3 separate regions of the Homo sapiens genome follow, and regions 2 and 3 are each reported to be linked to region 1. Evidence: microRNA targets listed by miRTarBase, many of them from high-throughput screens and not tested one by one. Region 1 holds a microRNA gene; each other region holds the end of a gene's coding sequence. Distances are between the middles of the regions.

Evidence for each region. The annotated mature microRNA hsa-miR-1207-3p reads UCAGCUGGCCCUCAUUUC and lies in region 1 at 3,509-3,526, opposite strand. An mRNA with a match to its seed (bases 2 to 7 or 8) in the 3' UTR can be bound and repressed. Matches are read on the target gene's strand: a 7mer-m8 pairs with bases 2 to 8, a 7mer-A1 pairs with bases 2 to 7 and ends in A, and an 8mer does both.
Region 2: miRTarBase lists DCAF16 as a target of hsa-miR-1207-3p. Seed matches in the 3' UTR shown: 7mer-A1 at 2,936-2,942.
Region 3: the mRNA of ENTPD4 is a reported target of hsa-miR-1207-3p. Seed matches in the 3' UTR shown: 8mer at 4,028-4,035.

The regions. Positions count from the first base shown.
Region 1 is chr8:128,046,318-128,052,728 of GRCh38, reverse strand. It overlaps MIR1207 (microRNA 1207), which reads right to left and starts at 3,577; the gene lies at 3,491-3,577. The region is part of intron 6 of PVT1 (Pvt1 oncogene); the gene reads right to left. RefSeq lists a cis regulatory region at 3,186-3,438, enhancers at 3,317-3,862, 2,382-4,498 and a silencer at 4,051-4,234.
Region 2 is chr4:17,797,748-17,804,037 of GRCh38, forward strand. DCAF16 (DDB1 and CUL4 associated factor 16) reads right to left here. Exons shown (of 3, transcript NM_017741.4): 3 at 2,908-6,290. The coding sequence ends at 5,744. Among named protein-coding and RNA genes, the nearest start is that of DCAF16, 9.9 kb to the right of the region's middle.
Region 3 is chr8:23,428,257-23,434,667 of GRCh38, reverse strand. It overlaps ENTPD4 (ectonucleoside triphosphate diphosphohydrolase 4), which reads left to right. Exons shown (of 13, transcript NM_004901.5): 12 at 190-351; 13 at 1,514-5,506. The coding sequence ends at 1,742. Among named protein-coding and RNA genes, the nearest start is that of ENTPD4, 26 kb to the left of the region's middle.

The DNA.
Region 1 (6,411 bases):
GTTATGACTGTGGTAAACACAATTGACCTCATTCTTCCCCTTACAGGATCCCAATCTAGTGAAGGAATACAGATGTGAAATAAACAAAACTAAATGTATCATTTTAAATAATACTATGAAGAGAAGAGTAATGTGAGCAAGATGGCAGAATAGTAGTCTCCAGTGTCTATCCCTTCATAGAAACAGCAATTTGAACAACCACCCATGAAAAATATACCTTCACAAGAGCTAAGAAATCCAGATGAGCAATTACAGCAGCTGGGTGGAGCATAGAAATAATAAAAGATGCATTGAAAAGGGTAGGAATAAGAGTTTCACATCACTCACATCACCCTTCCCCCAAGACAGCACAGTGCAGCATGAAGAGAGAAACCCTTCATGTGGAGGAAGGAGAGTGAAGTAAGCACCCAACATCAGTGTAGATCCTAGTACCAGGTTGGCCTTCACAGACGCATGCTACAGACATGAACACAGTCAATAAAGCCATCCCACTGTATCTCAGTGCCAGTCTGGCCCCCAGGGACCCAGAATCTAGGCCTGTACCCATGGACTCAGGCACCAGGCCAGCCCGCTTAAGAATTCCAGCAGTAAACTTGCCCTCAGACCCTGCCAGCCAATCCACCCAAAATATCTTGACTGGTGAACAGCTTTCTTGGCCAAAGCTAATTGGTAAAGAATAAAAGAGATCTCTACTTCTTAAAATATGTAGACATCAACACAAGACCCCAAGGGTTACAAATAGACAAGGAAACATGACTAAAAAACAAACTAAAGCACCAGTAACCAATCCTAAAGAAATTGAGACCTATACATTGTCTGACAAAGAATTCAAAATAATTGTCTTGAAGAAACTCAACTTAAAGAGAACATAAACAACAAAATCAGAAAAACAATACATAAACAAAGTAGAAGTTCAACAAAGAGAGATAAACCATAAAAAAAGACCCAAACAGAAATTCTGGTGGTAAAGCAAAATGACTGAACTGAAAAATTCTATAAGGAACTTCAGCAGCAGACTTGATCGACCAGAAGATGGAATCAATGAGGTCAAAGACAGGCCATTTGAAATTAGTCAGAAGAATAAAAAGAAAAAAAAATGAAAAAGAAAACCTATGGGACTTATGGGACACCATCAAGTGAACTGAAATACACATTATGGGAACTCAAGAGGAGGAATAAAAGCAGAGGAGAAGGTGATAGAAAGTTTATTTAAAGAAAAAAATACATAGAACTCTCCAAATCTGGAGAGGAAAATAAACATCTCAATCCATGAAGTCCAAATAATTTGTAATTTATTAAACATAAGGAGGTCTTCATTGAGGCACATTAAAGCCAAATTCTTAAAAGTTAAAGATAAAATTATGGGCATCCATCTGAAGGGAAGAGTCCTCCTCTCCTTGGGCACAGAACTTCCCCCAGTCCCCAGTCAGCACCAGGTTCTCAGCTACCTATGTCTTATGCAATCCAGGCTTGGCACAGATTCCCAATAATGCAACCTCCTCACTGGATGATAGGCTATGTGAAGACAGAATCTTCATTTTATGCATCCTTACAACTCCAGTGTGAAGCACAGACACAACATATCATGTGCACTCAATCAATTTCGTTCAATGAAAGAACAAGTGACTCTCTTTCATTCTCTTGGAGTTGAATACTCAATCGTCCCATAAATGGTTCCAGTGCTCAAGCTGAGAATCTTACACCACAGTCAATGCCCTGAAGAAATTGAGACTGTGCTGGGAAGTCAGACACAAAAAGAAAGAGATGAGGTCCACTCTTGCTGTCATACATGAGGAACTAAGAGTCTTTCAAACAGAGGAAGATGACTTTGTGGCAGAAAAACCCACAGAGGAAGTGAATGATGGAATGGAACTTGAGGACAGGTGGAGTTTGAATAATCAGTGGGGTAGTCAATTAGAAGGTTAGGGAAAACCCCATTCATTTATCTGACAAGTCAAGCCCCAGTAGGAGCCTTTAGACAGGTTCTTCTCACAAGAACCCTGCAGGTAGGAACTATCAGCCCAGGTTAATGTCAAGGATACAGAGGCTTGGAGTGGTGAGGTGACATTCCTAGGGTCACAGAGCCAGCAACTGTTGGAGCTGAGGTCTGAACCCAGCACTCTCTGAAGCCAGAGCCCATGGATCTCTCAGGCATCCAAGGGAGAAAAAACAATGGGATCAAAGCACAGACGTCAAGGAAAGCAAGTAGTGTTTAAAAGACAAGAAGTGAGACCTGTTTACCAGAACTGATTCCCCACATAAGAGGCTCGGAGGCATTCAGTCTTTATTCACAGGCTGGAGTGATGTTGCGGTGGACTTAATGCCCCCTGAGAGGTCTGACTTCAAGCCTGTGGGTGACACGGAGCTACTGTTTTTGAGTTGGACAGGGACATGGTCAGAACTGTGCTTTCAGAATTTGGACTTGGCCACTGGAAGAAGAGACAGTTAAACTCAAGTTGCCCAACATGAGGCATGGGATGGGAGAGGTTGGGGAAGGGATGGAAGGAAACAGAGTGGGCACCAACAGGAAGGAAGCAAAGTCAGGAACTGCTGGCTGGAATGGGTCCAGGGAGAGGGAAAACCACTTCTCCTTCCTCTTCTTATGATTGCAAGATTAGTACTTGAGAATTAGGCTGCACAGGCCAGGACTTCCCAAAACTCAGGAGGGAAAGAGCCCAGAGCACGTGTCTCCAATGGAGGCTATAGTTCCAAATCACGTGATCATCGGTCATCTCCTTGCCCACCCTGAAGCCCTTGTCCCCAGTGTACTTTGGGCTCAGACAGTCCCTCAGGGGATACAGCAGTGTCCTTTCCTTCAGCATTCAGGGCAAATGAGAGGCAAAGAGATCAATGGAATGCAAAAGCGTTACTATAGATGAGAAGTCGGACGCACAGAGAGGTTCCACCACTTGCCTAATATCACACAGCAAGTACATGCCAGAATCAAAATTCAAACCTAGAGCCCCGGTGTAAACCTTACCTGAATCAGTCAGGGAGCAGCAGGGAGGCAGTGGAAGGATAGGCCCCCTGACCTCACTCCCCGCCTGCCTTCCCATCCTGCCAGTGCCTTCCAAACTGATACCAGAGAGCATGGCAGCCCTGTGTTGCATCCACCCTGATAATGCATCCACACAGGTCAGCCTTCTGGGCACAAAACAAGGCAGAGAAGAGCAAGGAGTGGACCTGGAGGGGCCCACGGAAGCTCCCCAGCACCCACCACTCCAATGGCCCAGCCCCTGGTAGGTCTCCAGTGCCCTTCACCCTACAGAGCCACAGAATCCCCAGACCTTGACGCTGCAGCTAGGGCCCGCCTGCCTCTCAAGAGAAGGGCAGGGCCCCACACAGGCAAGTGCTCTGCCTCCGCGCAAAGCTGGGCATGCGTCATCACACTCCCGCCTTCCTTCCTCATTCACTCTCCCTTGCCCTGCTTCTATCAGTGGCTCCAAGACGCAAACATCTCGAAATGACCTGCTTCTGTGTAGGTCAGCTAACAGAAGTGCTGTCTTAAGAAATGAGGGCCAGCTGATGCCCACTACCAGACCCAGCCAGCCCCTCCCAGCCTCCCTGCCAGCCCTGCACATGGAGGCCTGGCGGCCAGGAAAAAGAAAGGGCTCCTATCTCTGATTCCTCAGGGCCTCTGATAAGAAATGTCATCCCTTGCTGGGTAATATTACCAAGCCAGATAAAAATCTCTATCAAGCTTAAACATATGGCTGGCTGCAGAACACAGAGTCCAGTGGAGAAGGGTAATTTATTTGCTTAAGCTGAAAACCCTGGGCAGCCGAAAGAAGTGCCTGAATAAAAGAGTAAGAGCCAAATTATAACCTCTTCTGACTTGGCATGGGGATTTTTCCCTGGGAAGGATGAGACACCTGAGAACAACAGGGGGCTCTCCACACATTTCTCCTGACACAATAAGCGCTTTCGCCTTCCTCTTTCTTCAAAGGGCACTTTCACTTATGCTATCACATTTAATCCTCACTACAACCTCAAGAGAGGCATTTTTAGCTTCCTTTACAGATCAGGAAATTGAGATTCAGCAAGGTTAAGTAAAGTGGCCAAGGTCACACAGGCAGCCATGCTGGAGCGAGGACCCAAACCCCAGCAGGTCTGACTCACCATCAGATGGGGAAGCTGATCCCAGCTTCTGGGGAGGATCGGCTCATACATCCACTTAATCAGCGAAGTCAGATCTGCCCAACTTAACTGACAATGTCAGCTACACATTGTAATCTTGAAGGTCCATTTCAAGGCTCTCCCGTCTCCTTGTTTCTCTGTAGCCTAAAGGATAATGAGAAAGCCTTGCAGAGCACAGAAGCTCAAGGAAAAGGACGGGAGGCCAGGGATAGTACCCAGGAGAGCAGTGAGTGACCTCAGGGCTTAGATTCCAGCCTCATATGCTCAAGGAGTAGCAGGTAGAAGGAAACTGTGGAAAGAAAACTCCTCTCTCTGTTCATTCATTCATTCACAAATATTAGTGGAAAGCCTATTGTGTGCCTTCTCTAGCTTGGCCTTGGAGATACCAATGCAAATGGGCAGGCTAGGACCTGCCTTCATGGATCGTCTGTCTTCTAGAACTGACTTACAGGTCAGTAAAGAGGCAATAGCCACAGAGTGTGTTAAGTGTGTTTGTGAATGCAGAAGTTCACGTAACTGATCTGGGGTTGGTGGCTGTGCATTAGTGTGTAGCTGTTAGCATACTCCACACAGTGTTCTAGGCACTATTCTTTAAAAAGTCAGCATTGTTAAGGTTGACTTTGCTCTTTGGTAGTTAATATAGCTTCAAGATTGTTCCCAATTACTTCATATAGCCACTAATTTTTTTAGATTAATTTTTAATTCACAAATAAAAATTGTATATATTTATAATATATGATGTGAAGTTTTGAATGATGTATACATTGTGGAATGGCTAAGTTGAGTTAATTAACAGGTGCATCATCTCACATACTGATTTTTTTTTACTAATTTTTTAAACAGCTGTATTAGTGTTCCATTTTATCACAACTTAATCAACCAATCACTAACTAATGAGCATTTAAGCTGAGTCTCGTTTTTCTGTGTCAAACAATGTTGTAATGAAGATTCTCTTCTCATCATGCATGTGTTTCTGCATGAAAAGTTCTTAGGATTCGCCCAGTGTTTTTTAAGCTTGGCTTTTCCTGTGCTCTTCACTGCAGCAGTAGCAAGGTCTCAATAGCGTCCTTTACAAGATAATGGCTCCCACGCGCCCATCCTCTTCAGACCTGGTGGGGCTCTAGTAAAAGGGTTTTAGTTCTCTTTAGTGAGCAACTGCCACCATTTCCACAAAAGCACACAAGAAAACAAAAACGTTTCCATTCTGGTGGCCAAGAAACCACTCCTCTTATCCCTGCCTCCTCTGGCCCATGGTGACTTAGTTCAGAATCAAGCGGAACTTAGCAGCAAGACACCAACCTCTCTTCTCACAGGTCATTCCTAGAAAGTGTCAGCTTTCCTTTTCTTCTGGACTCTGAGAGATTCAAGAACACAGAAAGCCCAAGGCTAGCAAATCTCCACTGAAGCTCAGCATACATCAAAAACTAAAGCCTGGTGGAGAAGGCACAGCAAATGTCAACTGCACACTTGGGAGCCCAAAGTACCTTGGAGGAAGGCATCAGTCGTCCAACAGAACACCTTTGGATAGTCAAAAGATAAAGAGAGTATGACTCCATGGCTGGAACAAAGTAGAACCTCAGACAAGAGGACATCCTGTTCATGAGAGGTTGGCCATCCACTGAAGACACTGTGGGGGACCGTGAAGGCAGAGCAGACATGAGAAAGGCAGAGCCCCACTCCTTGGTCCCCTGGAGAAAACCAAAGAAAGGGCTGTAATCTACGTGATTAGAGATGGAGAAACTAAGAGCCTGGGGAACAAAGGAAAGGGCCTTACTCATTCTTCCTGGACAAGTTAGAGAAGAGGATATTTGAGTTAGATATTGAAGAGTGAACATTTAGAAGACAGAGAAAAGGGAGAGGACCTTCAGATGGTACTCACAGAGCAGTGTGGCATGGAGAGTGAAAGAATGTTCAGCCAGTGGCCAGACTGTAAAGGGTATTTCTCAGGTGCTGTGCTAAGGAGCTGGGCTTCTCCCTCCAGATGCGATGGGGGGCTGTGTAGGCTCCAGAGCAACAGAATGACAGATTAGAACTATGCTTCTCCATCACCATGGAGCACGAACTAGTGAGAGAAGACTCTCGGCCATGTGGGAACCAGTATCCTACAGTTCTAAGAACATTCCACAAGGCAACAGATGCAGTGGCTTAAACAGAGGCCTACGGAGCCAGGCTCCCGGACTTCAGATCCCAGCTCTGCCATTCCCAGGTTGAACAAGTTACTGACCGACCCCGTGGACAGTTTTCTCATTTGGAAAACGGGGATATCAGCAGAGG
Region 2 (6,290 bases), not on the chromosome of region 1:
CATGCCCTTGGGCTGTTCCACTTGTTTGGGTACCTCTCAAAGAAGTTGCCCCTACTGGTCCATTGCTTAATTAATTTATTGTAAACCAAAACCATCAGCTGATACATTGGAGTGTCAGGTGCCACAGCTGATACCATAGATGGAAGGGTAGTATCAGGCATAGGCTGAGCAGTTAACCCAAACTTAACAATTTCTCCCCAAATAAAACTATAGTACCAGCTCCTTATTTTGCAACACTCATTTGAGGAGTTTCATCTGGTTTCTGTTGCTAATTTGAGAAACTAGCTTGGTTTATGTGTATACTAGGAAGTCAGTTTTAATCTTGTTAAGCTAACCAGTATCCTGAGTCCCTCCTGAATGATTGTTGTTATATAGAGCCTAACTCCCCTAATGATCCCAGGAATTTTCATATCACGTGTCAGAATCTTCCTAAATAAACTGCCCAAATTCCAGTCAACTTCGTTTTATGATTCAACTTGAAACTGTTGCTAACGTTTTTAACTGACTCCACAGTTTAGAAGAAATAACCCTATCGCTGTCTTCCTGTTACACTGTTATTTTCCTTTTTTTTTTTTTTTTTTTTTATACCAGGTACCAGTGTAACACCAGCACTTTGGGAGGCTGATGTGGGAGGATCACTTGAGCTCAGGAGTTCCTGACCAGCCTGAGTGAAACTGCCTCTACAAAGAAATACAAAAATTGGCCTGTGTGGTGGTGTGCACCTGTAGTCCACAGCTACTGATGAGGCTGAGGTGGGAGGATGGCTTGAGCCCAGGAGGTCGAGGCTGCGGTGAGCCAAGATTATGCCCCTGCACTCCAGCCTAGGCAAGAGCGAAACCCTGTGTCAAAAAAATAAAAAAATAATAATAATAATAAAAGAAAACCAGGCATTCATTTTCCAGAGCTCATTGAGAATAGCTGGTCATAGCTCTCACAGAAGATGGGAAGCCAGCAAGTGTCAGGTCACTGTGGTATATCCTCATCCTTTCCATTTCTTGGTCTCAGTTGCAAACTTAAGTCTCACTGCGGCTGCTAATTGAAAGGAAGAGCTTGGCAAACTGCATGGAATTAGCAGACTCAAATATGTAGTCATTAACTCAACTGTATTTAAAATTATTTGAGACACATCATAGACATTTTTCTTTTAGCAACAGCAAGTTGACATAGAAGTACTGGTGGTTGGTCCAGCTAATGTAACTCCCTCAGTCCAATGGGTATCACTGGCGGACAGATACGTTACCAGCTTGCACAGTTAACTCATGAAGTCTGAGAAGTTATCCATACTTCTCAGGCTGTTCTATATGTCCTAGCTACCTGAGCAAAACACTTTTGGCCCTGATCTTTGTGCCACTACCTTGTGATTAGCAGATATAATTTAAATCTGGATACAAAATATCTATATATTTTCTCCATTTCCTTGGCTGAGTATCCGTTGTGGGGGTTTAATTGAAGTCTGCCCTCCAGATGAATCTTCATTATACTTGGATGGCTGCTCCATTCAATTCTTTTATATGATTCTCCACTATAAGCTATTTTCAATATGTGAAGGGCCAACATATGGATTAGGGTTTAGGTTTATTTAATATGACCCTAGACAGCAGAAATGGCTTGGGGTAACATATAGGTTCATATATTTTAAAACTAATTTCCTATGTGTAGTAATCTTATTTAGTTTTGCATTCCCAGTGTCTGCACTAGAGTAGGCACTTCTCCATAGCAATATTGGATGAATGGCTAAATTTCTAACAAGAGATATTTAAAACTAACAGGCTGCTCCAAAAGACATATTCTCTAACACTGGAGCCAAAAGTAGAAAGCCAGATGCAAGCCAACTTACGCATCAGAAAATAACCCAAGTGACTTCTAAAGTCTTTAAATGCTTTAGCTATTTACACTATCAAAACATTTTCATCAGAGACTTTTTTTTTAAAATATGGACAGGTGTGATAGAAGACCCAGCAGGAAGGGCTTCTATCCCCTAGAGGGGACCTATCATATGCCCTCCTGCCATGCATGTATGGATTTTTTTCTTTTCTTAGGAAGCAGATGGGATTAAAAGACGTGATTATGGTCTTTGAGGCTCAAGGTATCTGGACTGTTTTAATAAAAATGTTGCCTATGGCTGGGCACGGTGGCTCATGCCTGTAATCCCAGCACTTTGGGAGGCTGAGGTGGGTGGATCACCTGAAGTCAGGAGTTAGAGACCAGCCTGACCAATTGAGAAACCCCATCTCTACTAAAAATACAAAATTAGCTGGGCGTGGTGGCACATGCCTGTAATTCCAGCTACTCGGGAGGCTGAGGCAGAATTGCTTGAACCCGGGAGGTGGAGGTTGCAGTGAGCCGAGATTGCGCCATTGCACTCCAGCCTGGGCAACAAGAGCGAAACTCCATCTCAAAAAAAAAAAAAAAAAAAAAGTTGCCTATCTGCACTGAGAAAGTAAAAGACAGTTAATGTCCACTGGTTTAGAAATAGTTTCCTTACTCCTTTGATAAATATTTCTATAAATAGAGGATAAAATAATCTTTTTATCTTAATTATGGTGACTGCATTTAACAGAAGCCAACATAGGGAGTGCAAAGGTAGTAAATTCATTCCCAAACCCAGTGTTTATGCCACACAAAAAGTTAACTTAAGGCTTATTTAGGTACCTGTTATTTTGTGCAACCTGGAATTACTTAAAATACATAAACAAATAAGCTCACTTTGAATCTTGACTGAATATCAGACATTTTCTTCTTCAAGTGTGTTTCTTCTCTAGAGACGCCAAGTCATCTCCTGTCAGACATACTATATAGATTCAGGTACTGTATCTATTAACTCTATTCAGTACTTAGTGAATGTAGAATATGCCTTAAGCAAAGTAGGATCTATTTCATTTGTTGAGGACAAATGACCATACTCTGTTCAGCATGTACAAAGCTATTGGTTTATTCAGCTGCCAAGCTGGGGAAAGGCTTCCTTTCGAAGTGAATAGCAAAAATGCATTCATGAGCAAGGCACTTTTATACACACACAGAGAGAAAAAGGAACGTATTATGAACACATGAACATAAACATATTTTAATATTCAGACCTCTTCCCTACCTCCTCCCACCTCCACTTAAACAAACAAACAAAAAAAAAGGAAACAGTTTCCTGTAACATTTTAGAAACCAGTTTCACAGAATACCTACATAGGAACAATTTCTGATACATTCAGTTACACTAACAATATGATATGGTTTCAGGTCAATAATTTCCACTAACAAATACTTTTATTCTACAATTCCCTCTTTTTTCCTTTAGACAAGACAACTAAGGCTCAGCAGAAATATTCACTAGGTTATAAGCATTCTTCTCTCTTCTTAAAGTTGCTATATATTTACACAATTTGTGATTCCTAACCTTTTTTTTTTTTGAGACGGTGTCTCACTGTTGCCCAGGCTGGAGTGCAGTGGCGCGATCTCAGCTCATTGCAACCTCCACCTCCCAGGTTCAAGCAATTCTCCTGTCTTAGCCTCCCAAGTAGCTGCGATTACAGGCACATGCCACCACGCCCGGCTAATTTTTATATTTTTAGTAGAGATGGGCTTTCACCATGTTGGCCAGGCTGGTCACGAACTCCTGATCTCAAGTGATCCACCTGCCCTCAGCCTCCCAAACTGTTGGGATTACAGGCATGAGCCACCATGCCTGGCCTGCTTCAATTTTTTGATGCCACTTTGTAAACGGCACTTAATTATGGAAAATAGGAAAAAGCAAAACTAAAATAAGGAAGAGGATATATATATAACTTTTCACAATCTCTTTTCTGATTCCCTTTAGATGCCCAGTCAACCAGGACCACACACAGATTTCATTTTATTTGTAGAGTATATGAAAAGATTTAATAGTCTCATGCATTTTATTTTACGTATACTGATTTCTACGTTTTGACTGACTATTTAAATAAACAAAACAAGACTCATTTACAAGGGCATATACTCTTCCTTGTTTGGCCAGAAGAAAATCTATAGCTAAATCTACTTAGAAAAACAATGCTGCTAAAACTCTTAACTTCAGATTGTATTAGGCTGAGATTTTCTAATAACAAGGTTCTTTAAAATTAGAAGGGTTCAATCCCAGCACTTTGGGAGGCCGAGGCAGGTGGATCACGAGGTCAGGAGATCAAGACCATCCTGGCTAACACGGTGAAACCCTGTCTCTACTAAAAATACAAAAAAATAGCCAGGAGTGGTGGTGGACGCCTGTAGTCCCAGCTATTCGGGAGGCAGGGCAGGAGAATGGCACGAACCCGGGAGGCAGAGCTTGCAGTGAGCTGAGATCATGCCACTACACTCCAGCCTGGGCGACAGAGCAAGACTCCGTCTCAAAAAAAAAAAAAAAAAAAAAATTAGAAGGGTTCCTGAAAAGTTTGCAATGGATGTGGAAAGTACTTGAGCTTTTACTCCAGGAAATGCTATACAGATTAAAATTTTAATCCATTAGCAGTTAATGCTGAAAGCAGAAATGCTCTCTTAATCATTTTTCCATTCATCTTTTGAAATGTTATTTACTCTTGACAAAAGTCTGAGTACCAAGATTCAGGAAACACATTCCCTACAGAACAGGTGTTTGTTTAATCCCAAGGGATGATCTTATAGGCTGATTTAGTCAGAGACAGCCTGGTGGGAGACTCCGATATAGAACGTTCATGCTGTAATTTTAAGTACCATAATAAGTTTGTAGTAGTATAGGCTAGGCTTAAAACTGCACTCCTCCTGCCTCCCCGCCCCCTTCCAAAAAAAAGAAAAAGTGAAAGGAACTCTAAAGAGTGTCATATGCAGGCACATCTATATAAAAGCTGGGAAAGAAATTCATATCCCTGCCATTTTCCTTTGTGTAGTTACCCAGTTTAATTCAACTACCTCAAAAAAAAAAAAAAAGAAAAAATAAAAGGAACCCTAAAGAGTGTCATATGTAGGCACATCTATATAAAAGCTGGGAAAGAAATTCATAGCCCTGCCATTTTCCTTTGTGTAGTTACTCAATTTAATTCAACTACTTCCACAGAAATGTATGTTAGAGAAGAGTATGCTCAGAAAGGTATTATTGTGGGTAGCTAACTTCTTGCTTTCAACAATGGCTGTTCTAAAGTCTGGATAACAAAAGGGGTGGTGGTCTACTTTTCTTCATTAATAATCAGGTATCTCATTAAAGCCATTCAGAAAGGCAGAGTAAATTGGGGTGGGGAGGGTGAGAAGTGAGTGTGAAGAATATTCAACTATCTTTTGTAATATGGTCCCCTTAACTAATTCTCCTTTTTTTTTTTTGAGACTGAGTCTCGCTCTGTCACCCAGGCTGGAGTACAGTGGCATAATCTCAACTCACCGCAACCTCCGTCTCCTGGGTTCAAGTGATTCTCCTGTTTCAGCCTCCCGAGTAGCAGGGATTACAGGCGTGCACTGCTGCGCCCGGCTAATTTTTTTATTTTTAGTAGAGACAGGGTTTCACTGTGTTGGCAAGGCTGGTCTCAAACTTCTGACTTCAGCAGATCCACCCGCCTCAGCCTCCCAAAGTGCTGGGATTACAGGTGTGAGCCACCATGCCTGACCTTGATATTATCATTTTATCCACAGGGTTTGTCAAAGGGTATCCTCATTGGCTTGCCAGGGCATAAGAGAGTTTGACTGAGAAGGCATTAGTGGGCTGTGTAATGACTAACTTTGTACCACTTTCTCAATTAGCAACATCAGAGATATCAGAGCAAATGGTAGATCTTTACAGTGATGCAGTTAGGAGTTTGTTAACTGCCTTTTGGAAGTCAGTGTAAGAATAAGTAGTGTTGATGGGTTCAGTACGAGTTGTTTCCTTAACTGTTTTAGTCAGCCAGCCACAGCAACACCCAGAAACACATGAATTAGGGATCTGTTTTAGGTATTCAGGTATGGGAGTGGCTCTACTCAATGTTCGGCTTAGCTGTTTGGTGGCAAATTGCAGTGCTCCATTTAGAGTGGCATGATCTCTAGAGAGCCGGCTGGGACTTGTAAGAGGCTTTTGAAAAGGTGGGACTCCACAAGAGGCCAGAGGGGGCCATTCAGGAATTGGTTCCAGTTTGGGGACACAATGGGAACAATGGGAGAGTCTTAGACCTATCTCTCGAAGTATATGGACTGGTGTGCTTGGATCCAACAGTTTAGCATGATACAACCAGGAATTAGGATTTAAAGGTTTCCAAGTTGTGGAATATTTTAAAAGGCACTTAACCTGCCAGGCAAGACTCTCAAGAGGCGATAAGTTGGGCACCATAGAGTCCTCTTCTTCAGAG
Region 3 (6,411 bases), 100 Mb from region 1:
GTTGTGGGACCAGGGATGTGAAGCAAGTACATCAACCTTGAAACGCGCGCAGTTGGTTTGGGAGAGCCGGCCTGAGGAAGCCCCTGCCCCAAGGCTGCCCACAGAGGGAAGGATTGTGTGTGTGTGTGTGTGTGTGCCATCTTGACAGAGTGAGTCAGTCTGACTTGCCTTTGTGCTTGCCGTTTGTAGGTATCAGTGCTTCAAATCGGCCTGGATGTTTGAGGTGTTTCATAGGGGCTTTTCGTTTCCTGTCAACTATAAAAGCTTAAAGACTGCCTTGCAAGTTTACGACAAGGAGGTTCAGTGGACCCTTGGAGCCATCCTCTACAGGACCCGCTTTCTACCATTAAGGTAGGGCTGTGAATTTGGGAACGAGAATCAAAAAGATGCTTTTCTGCAGTTACAGCACCTCATGGCAGCTGTGGTCTGTGGCTGTTTGGGGCATTGCTGTTAGAGCCGGCCACGGCAGAATTGTAGGGACAGTGACGTTTGCTTTTGGTCTTGCCCCCTCCCCACAAGTGCTTCCTCCCTTCTCACCCTACCATCCCGTAATACACAGCACTCCTGTCCTACTGCCCTGTGTTTGGTTATTCTCAACTGTCTGTTCCCCAGCCCCGGCAAAAGGGTCAGTTCCGGGGTTCTTAACCTTTATGACTCAGGCCTCTTCTCCAAATACTGTTTAAATGCATGTATAAATACATAGGATTACAGAAGAAACCATCATATTGAAATAATACCAAAATATTACAGAAAACAAGTTTGTGATACTGTAATATGTGTTCTTCTCTATTAACACATTAAATAACAGGATCTGGCAGCAGAATTAGCACTTTCTGTAATTTCAGTGTAGTCAATGAGCGTCAATGATATTTTGAGGCATTGATGATACCATAATGGGACATGAAAGATCTGTGATTTTCGTTAGTAACAAAGTTGCAGGTGCTGCCAACGCTAATGATAGTTTGTTGTCTGCATTCATGGTCAAAGAAATGCTACATCTCAGTCAGCGCTTGGGTAGAACAAAGATGTGCGTTTTTCCCCATTCACGTTTGCAGATCTGCTGTCAGTTGACCTGTGCTAAGAACCTGAGTTACCTGATAGATGAGACATTTGCTCTTCCCCCCACCCCCTCCATTTAATTGAGCATTTCTCAGCAACCCTTTTAACTGGGTTAACTGTAAAAATGGTGAGTCATGGGTGTTACTGATCACAAGCATGCAGTTTGTTTACATGTTGACTTCTTTGTATCAGCGAAACCTTCACGGCTCTTCTAAATTCCTCTGATTTTGGTTGCCCAAATTATAATGACCGACTTCAGAGTATACTTTCACATGTTATCTCACTGATACTTAGAAGCCCCCTGCATTGGGCTGTTCCGTTCTCCATTTCAGAGGTAGGGTTGCAGTTCCTAAAGTGCAGCTCTGGGGCCTGGGTCCCGCCGTCCCCCTGTGCACCCTTTCCACCCCTTTCCTTGCTTACTGTCCTGTTTGTTGTTTGGTGTTCACATGGGCAGAGACATCCAGCAGGAGGCCTTCCGAGCCAGTCACACCCACTGGCGGGGCGTTTCCTTTGTCTACAACCACTACCTGTTCTCTGGCTGCTTCCTGGTGGTGCTGCTGGCCATCCTGCTGTACCTGCTGCGGCTGCGGCGCATCCACAGGCGCACTCCCCGGAGCAGCTCGGCCGCCGCCCTCTGGATGGAGGAGGGCCTTCCCGCCCAGAATGCCCCGGGGACCTTGTGATCCAGCTCACAGCTCCACGAAGACTCAAAAGGAAAAGCCATTTTTGCCTCAGGGTTTCTCCTCTTTATTTTCCTGTGGTTTTGTTTTTTCTTTCCCTTTTTTGTTCCTCCAAACAAAAACAAAATGCAGGCCGAGCGCGGTGGCTCACGCCTGTAATCCCAGCACTTTGGGAGGCCGAGGCGGGCGGATCATGAGGTCAGGAGATCGAGACCATCCTGGCTAACACGGTGAAACCCCGTCTCTACTAAAAATACAAAAAATTAGCTGGGTGTGGTGGCGGGCGCCCGTAGTCCCAGCTACTCAGGAGGCTGAGGCAGGAGAATGGCATGAACCTGGGAGGCAGAGCTTGCAGTGAGCCGAGATCACACCACTGCACTCCAGCCTGGGCGACAGAGTGAGACTCCGTCTCAAAAAAAAAAAATGCATTGTTTATAAGCCCTGCTGTCTAGAAGTATTGCGTTTAGCCATTTTGAGTACAGCATTAAATTGAGGAGTGGGGAAGAGGGAAATTCACTTGATTTTTGCTGCACAGGATATCTGCCAAAAATAAATGAGATTTCTGGGGTTTCTCTAAGGAATGTTAAATTTAAACACATGCACTTTGATACTGGAGGGAGGTGGAAAGATGCATTCTGTCAGTGGAGAGGGGACTGAATAGTGATGCTTTCATAGAACCAAAAAACTTACTGCCTGAAATGATAATCCTCTTTTTTCTCTATCTTGAAAGCTCTAACCTGAAGAGGGTGATTTTTTTTTTTATTTATTGTTCAGGTCTGTTACTGTATATGTTTTCTTTGCAAATTTAAATTTTTTAAACCATTTATATCCAAAACAGAGAAACATGGGCACCAGGAGATAACCATTTATAAAAGTGATAGTGAACTATCGACTACAGCTTTGTGCGAGTGTGTGAAAAATCCCAAGAAACCAGCGTGAGGGGAGGCAATGCTGGTTCTTTAAAAACACACACTTCAGAATTTACTGGTACATTTTATTTAGAAAAATCCTCGTTACTGTTATCTTTTCCTGACCGCAGGTAATTACGCTCCTTATTCCATATTTCAGTGGCATTAGAACACTGTGGTTTTGAAAGAATTGGAAATTCCTAGTTTCACCAGTTTCGGTTTTATTGGAACTAGAGCACATGCCCACTTCTTGCTCAGTATTCCTCAGTGTTTCTGCTTAATCGTGCCTCAGTTTCTTCCAGCTTCCAATTGGTGTTTCCCCCACCCCCCTTAATTAAAAGTCATCTCAGCTTTTAATCGTACTGGGAGACCCCATGCACAGCCTGCCGAGTCCTCTTCCTAACCGCATTGACTGAGGCTGTTGCTGGCAGCACCACTGTAAATCCAGAAGGGAAGAGTCTGCATCCAATACAGGAAATAAATTCACATTTTGAAGGAAAAAATTCGACAATTTAAGCCAAAATCTAAAAAGGACAATTGGATTGGCATATGTGAGATTGGTGTTTTTTCACCTATTTATTTAGTTGAGAAGTTTGGGGAATTCTCGTACAGTTTTTTTAGGTGGAGTTTGTTTTGTGCGAGTGTCTGTGTGTGCTGTTCCCTAACTCCAGAACAGTTAAATTCCTGTAGTTGGTAGCAGATTAGTACCCAGAAGTGGGGTTGTTGCTATAACAGATAACTGAGGATATTATAAAAGTGGCTTTGGAACTAGGTACTGGGCAGAGGCTGGGAGAGTTTGGAGAAACAGGAGAGAAAAGGCCTGTATTGCCATGAACTGAGCATTAGGGGCAGTTCTGCTGAGGGATCAGAAGAGAAGACCAAGGGAATTCTGTCCCAGTTGTGGCTCAAACTGCCTCAGGTGCAGCTTAACCTGCGTCTCTGGAAGGTAAAATGCATCTGATCCTTGAGGCAAGAGCTGTGGGGGCATGGCTCCCTCACCTGGATTTCAAAGCGTGTTACCAGCAGCCTGGGGACCCAGGCTCTGCCTCTGGATTTACCTGCATCGTATTTGCGCTTCGTGGTCAAAGTTGTTAAGAAAGGGGTGAGCTTCTGGCTACCTAATAAGTTGGTCTTGGCCACCTGCCTGCGACACTTCCTGGAGGAGCCATGGATTATTGGTGGAGGCTGCAGGGAGCTGGCGATGGAGCCACTGGTGTCAGCAGCAGAGAGGGAAGAAAGGAAAGGAAGGGGCCACAAATGGTTGAAGTGGGCAGGTGGGCACCCAGGGAGTTAGGGGACCCCGCCTTCCAGCTCTGGGCATAGAAGAGTTAGTCACATACCTGAGGATCCTGAAACAAGGGCTGAGAAAACCTCATTGCTCCAGCTGAGAGGTAGTAGTGGATTTGCCATTTTTAAACAGTTGCCTAAGAAAAAACGTTGAAGAATATGCAGCAGACACTATATGTGGCCTGTAAAGCCTAGAATATTTACTAAAATATTTACAGAAAAAGTTTGCTGGTCCTTGTGAGAACAATGCAGTTCAAAAAAGGATACAGACAGAAGCATCCTCTTAAATCAGGAATGTAGTTTCCATTTGTGGGCACGAAAAGATGGACAAGAGAAGTAACCAAACTTCAATCTTAAAATATTTGTTGCACCAGAATTTCACTTCGGATTTTTCCGTCTAGATTATTTTCAAGATGAGTTTTGAAACAAACCAAGAAACCTGCCCCTCACCCAAAATTGTTTAAAAAGAGACCACTCAAGGGAGTTCATTATGCCGTATGGAGATGTCTGCAGTCGCAGCAAATCACATTCCAGAGAAGGTCTCGCGTAGGTGAAGACAGCCAGGTGCTTTCTCTAAGAGATACAGGGTGGGTGAGAGACAAGCCAGGGAGGATCTTAATTCAAGAGAAGAATTCATACCAAGAGCTGACCAAGAAGGCAGTAAATTCTGTGTACTTGTAGCAGAAGAAATTGGACTAGGAACTTGCCCAAAGCTTTATCAAAGAAAAGCATTGTGTTCAATCTTGGTAGAAACATGCCAGCAATAAGTGCTTATGTTCCATAGCCATATCATGGGCTTCTCACTTTTAAACCTCCTCCAGGGGATGTTCTCAGACATTTCACAATCCCTCTGGGGACATTACAGTAGAAGAGAAACACATGGAACTGTACCAGTGCTTTTTGCCCATGTTCATCCTAAGCTCCGGCTTTAGGCAGTGCTTTCTGACCTGGGCGGAGTGAAGACGCTGCTGGTGGCTGAGGCCAGTAACATGGGGCCCCTGCCCAGCCACCCTGAAGGCTGGGTAGGTCCCTCTTTTCACCACCAGTTTTCCACATCTGTGTACTCTAGATTAACAAACTCTGGATAAACAGATATTTACATTTTAAACTCAGGCCTACACAGAGTAGTTTTCCTTATAAGGAGCATGTATCACTTAGCAAGAAACTAAAAATGGCAAATGAGTTTTTCATCCTTTAAGAAAAAAATCAGCTTTAGAATTCTCTGCGGTCAGTTGTGTGCAATGCAACAAAACTACCTTTCAGTAAATTACTTAGTTATTTATTTCAGTGTTTTGTTTCTTTTGATACTAAGTTTCCCTTTCAATAATGAATGATGTGACCAACCAAGGAGAATTTGTTTGTTCTGTACTAAAATTATATTTTACAGTTAGGAATTATAAAAAGCAAGGGAGCATCTTTAAATGTTTTTTGTTTAAGCGATGTCTTCCATCCAAAGTAAGAATAATACTCTCGGAAGGTCCTTTTGGTGTCATGTCACTTGCTGTATGTGGCAGCCTTACAGTGCCACACTTGGGTACTGAAAAATCAATAAAACGAAAGTTCATCATCCCATGGCCCGTAGACTGTGTGGGCTTGCTTCCTTGTCATCTTTGAATCTTCTTACTCATTAGAATGATGAGTTGAACTTGAGTCCAAATTCAGTGAAATACATTGTCTGAGTCTGACGCACACTCTTTGCATGTGTTGTGTTGGGTGTGCATACAGTGAAGCACAATTGTGTGGGGTTGTGGAGAGGGCGTCCACACTCTCTGCAGCTCAGAAAGCAGATATTTCACAAGTAGTGACCAACCCACGACGTTAAGCCATTCACCAACAATAATTGCCACTCTGAGATGACTGTTTATAAGGTCACCATTTTAAGTACCTACTTGTATATAGACAAGGAAAAGTAATAAAATTAACCAATTTTTATGTATTTAATAGTAACAGCAAATGCTGACTTTATGTTACACTGTTTTGCAGTTCGATCTAAGCTTAGAACCTTTGGCTTACTTCCAGAAAATTATGACTGTCATTATTAATGTTACGTGTTACCAATATGGAGGATGACATTAGACGCTCAGCATGTTTCTCAGCCGTTGGAGAATACATAGATGTTCTCCTGGAGCAGGAAGGTGGGCCTGAGCCATAACCTGAAAATAGATGATAGAGACAGATGGGAAGGGAAGGGGACCAGCTGTTAGGACCAACAAAAATAAAGGCCTGAGACATGCCGGAGAGGAGAGGGAAGCGCAAAAACAAAATGAGAGAACAGAGCCAGCAAAGTGAGCTCAAGGGAGGTCCTCAAGCCATTGATCGCTAGGAAAACAGGACACAGCATTAAGATAGAACTGTCGTAAATAATTTTTGAGGCAGTGCAATGACTATAGGGCTTTTTGCCTGACTTTAAATACGTTAAAATATCTAAGATGTTAAAAGACATCTAAATTTTTATTCCACTTGGTGGAAGAGAAGTC